Linked DNA regions of Homo sapiens: region 2 is linked to region 1. The links come from fine-mapping of genetic effects on gene expression. Tissue or cell type: whole blood. Region 1 holds a variant in brackets; the other region holds the start of a gene. All regions are shown on one strand. Distances are between the middles of the regions.

Evidence for each region. PIP is the estimated chance that this variant, and not a neighbour inherited with it, causes the effect.
Region 2: SPTB starts here. The variant in region 1 is fine-mapped to the expression of SPTB in whole blood (TOPMed, PIP 0.97).

What each region holds. Positions count from the first base shown.
Region 1 is chr14:64,766,515-64,769,194 of GRCh38, reverse strand. SPTB (spectrin beta, erythrocytic) reads left to right here. Exons shown (of 36, transcript NM_001355436.2): 29 at 77-161; 30 at 1,336-1,532; 31 at 1,843-1,892; 32 at 2,394-2,469. Among named protein-coding and RNA genes, the nearest start is that of MIR7855, 18 kb to the left of the region's middle. RefSeq lists an enhancer at 1,910-2,680. The variant C/T (reference allele first, on the strand shown) is at 1,328.
Region 2 is chr14:64,878,635-64,881,314 of GRCh38, reverse strand. SPTB (spectrin beta, erythrocytic) reads left to right here and starts at 1,408. Exons shown (of 36, transcript NM_001355436.2): 1 at 1,408-1,523. LOC105370534 (a long non-coding RNA gene) reads left to right here. Exons shown (of 3, transcript XR_943942.3): 3 at 1-434. RefSeq lists silencers at 788-867, 938-1,077, 1,128-1,297.

The DNA.
Region 1 (2,680 bases):
CAGGACCCATCTGCGCACTGCCTCAGATGGTGAAGGGTGAGCCAAGCCTGAGCTTTTCTCCCTTTCCTCCCCATAGATCCGCGAGAAACTGCAGCAGGTGATGTCCAGGAGGAAAGAGATGAATGAGAAGTGGGAAGCCCGCTGGGAGCGGCTCCGCATGTGTGAGTACAGCCCTGGAGCCAGGGCCCAGGGGCAGGAGTACCCCCGCAGGAGTAGGGGAATGGGGAGGTGCCACAATGGGTGGATTTTCACTACTGCCTAGAGAGGAGCCCCCCACAGCACTGCTCTTCAGCAAAGCTCTGGGGCCAGGGGCCTCAGCGGTCCAGGCAGAAGGCCAGAGTAGACACGCTGCTGGAAGCCTCACTCTAACTAGCCAGCGTGCCCCCACTCCCTGCCCATCCTCTGCCGCACTTGTCCCCAGCCTCATGCCCGGGCTGGTATGCCTGCAGAGCTATGGCCTGGGGGAGGAGTTGGGGGCCCGGGGGAGGGGCTGGGGGCCTGGGGGAGGGGTTGAGGGTCCGGGGGAGGAGTTGGGGGTCTGGGAGAGGGGTTGGGGTAAGGCTCTGAGGAATCCCAGACATTCCTCATGAGGAATGTCAAGCACAGAACCGGCTCTTCGTCCTTCAGCTGGGTGCTGATGAGAGGTGGGGAAAAGCCACCATTCAGGGAGGAGCTGTGAGCCAAGAAGGGCCAACTGGTGCCCCTGGCCACTCATCCAGCATCATGTGAGACAGCCAAGGGCTGGGAAGAATGTTCAACACAGAAGACTCCTTTTCAGAGACATCTAAAATACATTTTGTTTTCAAAATAGAGTTCTAATTAGTGAAAAATATAGCTTAAAAAATATAACTATTGGGCCAGGCATGGTGGGTAACATCTATAATCCCAGCACTTTGGGAGGCCAAGGCAGGAGGATTGCTTGAGCTCAAGAGTTTGAGACCAGCCTGGGCAACATAGGGAGATCCTATCTACAACGACAGAAAAAATTAGCTGGGCATGGTGGTGCACACCTATAGTCCCAGCCACTTGGTAGGCTGAGATGGGAGGATCACTTGAACCCAGGAGGCTGAGGCTGCCATGAGCCATAATCACATCACTGCACTCCAGCCTGGGTGACAGATTGAAGCCCTCCCTCTAAAAAAATATAACTATTGTGAAGATCGGTTAGGGGCCCAGTGTGGAATGGGGTGGCTGCAGGCAGCAAGCGTATCCATGTGGTTTAGGGACACCTATTCAGGCCACCTGCCTGACCACTGGCCCCAATCAGGAGTGAACGATTGGGTGCTAACAGGCCCTGGGCCTTGTGGGGGGTCTGTGTCCTGTTCCC[C/T]CTGGCAGTGCTGGAGGTGTGCCAGTTCTCGAGGGATGCCTCTGTGGCTGAGGCGTGGCTGATTGCCCAGGAGCCCTACCTGGCCAGCGGGGACTTTGGACACACAGTGGACAGTGTGGAGAAGCTCATCAAGAGGCATGAGGCTTTTGAGAAGTCCACGGCCAGCTGGGCAGAGCGCTTTGCTGCCCTGGAGAAGCCCACCACGGTGAGCAGGGAACAGTGCTGGGAGGCTCAGGAGGGTGGCAACTGTGCCCCCAGGGGTCTCATGTAAGGACTCCAGGCCAGTTGTTAGGTACTTAGAATGGTGTGACAGGCTTGGCCAGCAGCGACAATGGGAAGGAAAGACAAGTGGCAGGAAGTACTGACCTCCGAATGCAAAGGACAGAAGGGGCTGACTCTAGAAGGAACAAGTGTCAGGGCATGTGGGGGTGCAGGGCCGCATCCAGAGGGAGATCGTCTGAGAACACAACTCGCCTCTGTGGCTGCTCTGACCCCTGGGCCTTCTCCTCCTCTAGCTTGAGCTGAAAGAACGCCAGATTGCAGAGAGACCCGCAGAGGAGACTGGGTGAGTGGTGGCCGTGTGTCCAGGGAGCTGAATGCTCTGCCAAGTGGGAGTAGGGGGTGCCTTTCATCAGAAACCTGACATTGGGACCAGTTGCATTTGACTTCTCACACTGGGCACCCTCGTCAGGAAGGCCCAGAGTGCCTGAGCATGAGCGCAGAGGACCTTTTGCTTCCCCAGTCACAGGCGGGCTGAAGGCCTGGTGCGGGAGGAGGGGGCTGGGAGCAGTGGCTGCCAGGCGAGGCCCCACCTCGGAGCCACCTGAACACGGGGCCCCACAGGCCGTTCTGCCTGGAACCTGGCTCCCTTCTGAAGAATCTGCCTTGGCTTTTCCGAAGAAGTCGCTGGGCGGCTCCTTGCCAAGCACCATCCAGGCTGCCGGCTGACTGGAGGGGGAGCTATTTGGTGCTCCTCCCTGTGGGCGCAGGTGAAAAGCCAGGCCTCGCAGGAGGCACTGGCCTCAGAGGGGTGCTTGTTTCTAAAGAGAGACTGTGTCTTCCTTAGGCCTCAAGAGGAGGAAGGCGAGACAGCAGGGGAGGCTCCAGTTTCCCACCATGCGGCCACCGAGAGAACGTCCCCGGTCAGTCTCTGGTCTCGTTTGTCTAGTTCCTGGGAGTCACTGCAGCCAGAGCCCTCTCACCCCTACTAGGCTCAGCCCAGGTGGAGGCGAGATGAGCTGGCGCAGCCCCGCCCTCCATCCTCCCCACATCCCTGCAGCCACCTCCCAGCAGAGCAGGCTACGTCCTCACTGAGGTGTTCTTCATGAGAGTACTAGCCTCCTCCACTCCTCC
Region 2 (2,680 bases), 110 kb before region 1:
AATACCTGGGGCGTTTGTCCCACTCAGCACATCTCAGTGTCTAAATACCCACCCTCAAGAAGTGGGACTGCAGCAGGAAGTGAAGTATCTTTGCATATGTTCAATATATAAACTAAACTCGAACATCTGGCAAACACCCCTTTCCTGGGTGAATTCTGGAAAACAGCACAATTATAATCCCAAGCAAATAACTCAGGAGTAAGACTGTTCCCTTGTTAAGAACACCAGGCAGCATCAGTAAAAGTTAAAACTTCTTCTGCATCTATGCGCTTTTAATCTCCACGGCCATTTCCATAATACCTGAGATTACCTGCGTTGATAGCTGGTGAGAAATCATCCCAGGCACCGCAGGTGGAGAAAAGAGATGAAAGCTACCTCAAGGCGTACACGTAAACCTTACTGAACAATGACCTTGATCGTTAGAAAGTCAAGAAAATGTACTGCCTTGCAAGCTGCCGGTGTTCTATTGAGTTTCTCTCCGGGGGCAACTCGGAGATGCCTTTTTGGCACCATCGGTTCTAGTATTTCCTCTGGCCTGCTGCGCCGCGCCTCATCCAGGCTTGTAGTGAGGCACCCCCACTCGCCCGGAGACCCGGGCCGGCCAGGAGGTGCCAGTGGGCAGGTGTGGCAGCCTGCCTGTTGATTACAGTCCCTACAATGTGCGAGCTCCTTGGGACTGCAGGCTGCGCGCCGCCAGCTTTGCCTGGTTCGTCCTGATTACACTAGGTTTTCGGGCAGAAACAGCGACACTGAGCTCGGGCTGGGGGTGGGGCCCTCGGGCCCAGTGCCCGCCCCCTGCCCTCCCACCGCCAGCCGAGAGAAGCCCGCCCGGGAGCGCGCTTTCTAATGCACCAGCCCCCGGGAACAATCTGTCCCTCCCAAACCCGCCACGGCGGGGGTTCACCTCCCGGGTACCCGCCGCGCCCACCCTATGGCCTAAATGTCTTTTCATATATTTTAAAAACTGAACTGTGTGCAGTGGGGATGCAGGGCGGGAAAGGCTGGAGGGCTCATTTTCGCCACCAGGCTTGCCTCTCCGGGCGCACGAATTAGGCCCGAGCTAGAGTCCAACCCCCTTCCCGCCTCAGGGGGCTCGGGGTGGCGCGGGGTTAGGGGCAATGAACGACGATGGAGGCGCCCCAGGCTCAGCGGCGGGCGGGGAGGCAGAGGCGGGTTCCAGGAGCCGGGCTGAGGCCCGGCAGGTGCCCCCAGGCGCGGAGGCTGATTGGCAGGTGCGTGAGTGGGTGGGGAAGGCGGGGGCTGGGCTTGGCGCTGCGGGAGGCTGCGGCCCCGCCTCCCCGCCCCCGCCGCGGGACTATCTGGTCCCGGCAGCAGCGATGTCCCCCGGCAGGAATGTCCCTCCTCAGATAATGTTATTTATATCTCTGGGCGGGTCCGCGGCTCGGCAGCACCAGGCGCCCGGCGGCCGCTGTGCCAGGAGCCCCGCGCTGCCCTCCTCCCCCTGCGCCGCCGCCGCCGCCACCCCCGGGCTCGGGGTGGCCCCCGCTTCAGTCCCAGGGCAGGTGAGTCCCAGGAGGGCCCGGCGGCCAAGGGAGCTGGGTGCGGGTGCGCAAGGCTGGGACGCGCGGCGCCAGCTCAAAGGAGCGCTGGGCCCAGGGGGCGCCTGACGCGCAGGGCCCAGAGGACCGGGTGGGAGTCCAGCCCCGGTTGTCGGGCGTGGGGTGGGAGGGGTGCGGGGCCCGGGAAGCCCGGCAGCTGCGGCAAAGATCATCCCGGGACGCGGGAACGCGCGCGGGCGTCCGAGGCACTTGGTGCTAGCTTTGGAGAGCGGGATCCCGGAGAGTCCGTCACCCCGGGGCGCAGGGAGAGGGTGACGGGGGTGCGTGTTCTCGTCCGCCTTCTCCAGGACCCCGGCCTGGGAGCGAAGGGGATTGCGCCTCTAGCCCGTCCGACCGCAGCGCTGCTCTCTGCCTTTTTTTGTCCGGCTTCTCAGCCTTGTGGCCGCTCATATCCCTCTTCTGGGGAACTTGGCTGCGCTCTCCTCGGGCCACCCAGCGCCCAGGCAGGAGGGACAGGTGAGGGCAGCAGAGGGGGCCGGGCCTCCGGGTGCTGGGAGCCACCCAGAGAGTGACCCCGTGTAGACCGAGGGAGGAAAGATCCTAGTGCCCCAAGCCATACTTCAAGGACCCCTAGTCTTCCTCTCCCAAAGAGTTCCTCTCTTCCTCTAAGCTTCTCCGGGCTACTCTACCCTCACCCTCCTCTCCAGTTTCCCCTCTTCCTCTAACTTGGTCTTGAGAAATAGCAGAAAGTGGGAGAAATAACAGAAGCTGTAAAACAATCCCCAACTCCCACCAACTCATCCGTACTTCCCAGGCTGGGGAAGCAGCTGCGGGGCTGGAGTGCTGTTTCCCTGACAACGAGCTTCAGGTAGGGCCTTGAGTTACAGCCTATTAATATCCAAACCACTGTTTTCAGTGAGCAATTAGAGGCGCCAGCCAGGAGTAAGGAAAATGAAAAGAAGCCACTGTTTTTTGTACATCTAAATTTTAGATGCATCAGATTGGGGGGTGGGGTGGGGGGATATAGTGACAGCCTTTTTGTACTGAGAATTTCTGTGGGGAGAGACTAGGCTGTCACCTCCAGGTAGGAGGCAGTCATGCAAAACCCCTGCCTGGAGGTAGTCACGATCCGTATTTTAGTTTCTAAGGGAAGAGATTCA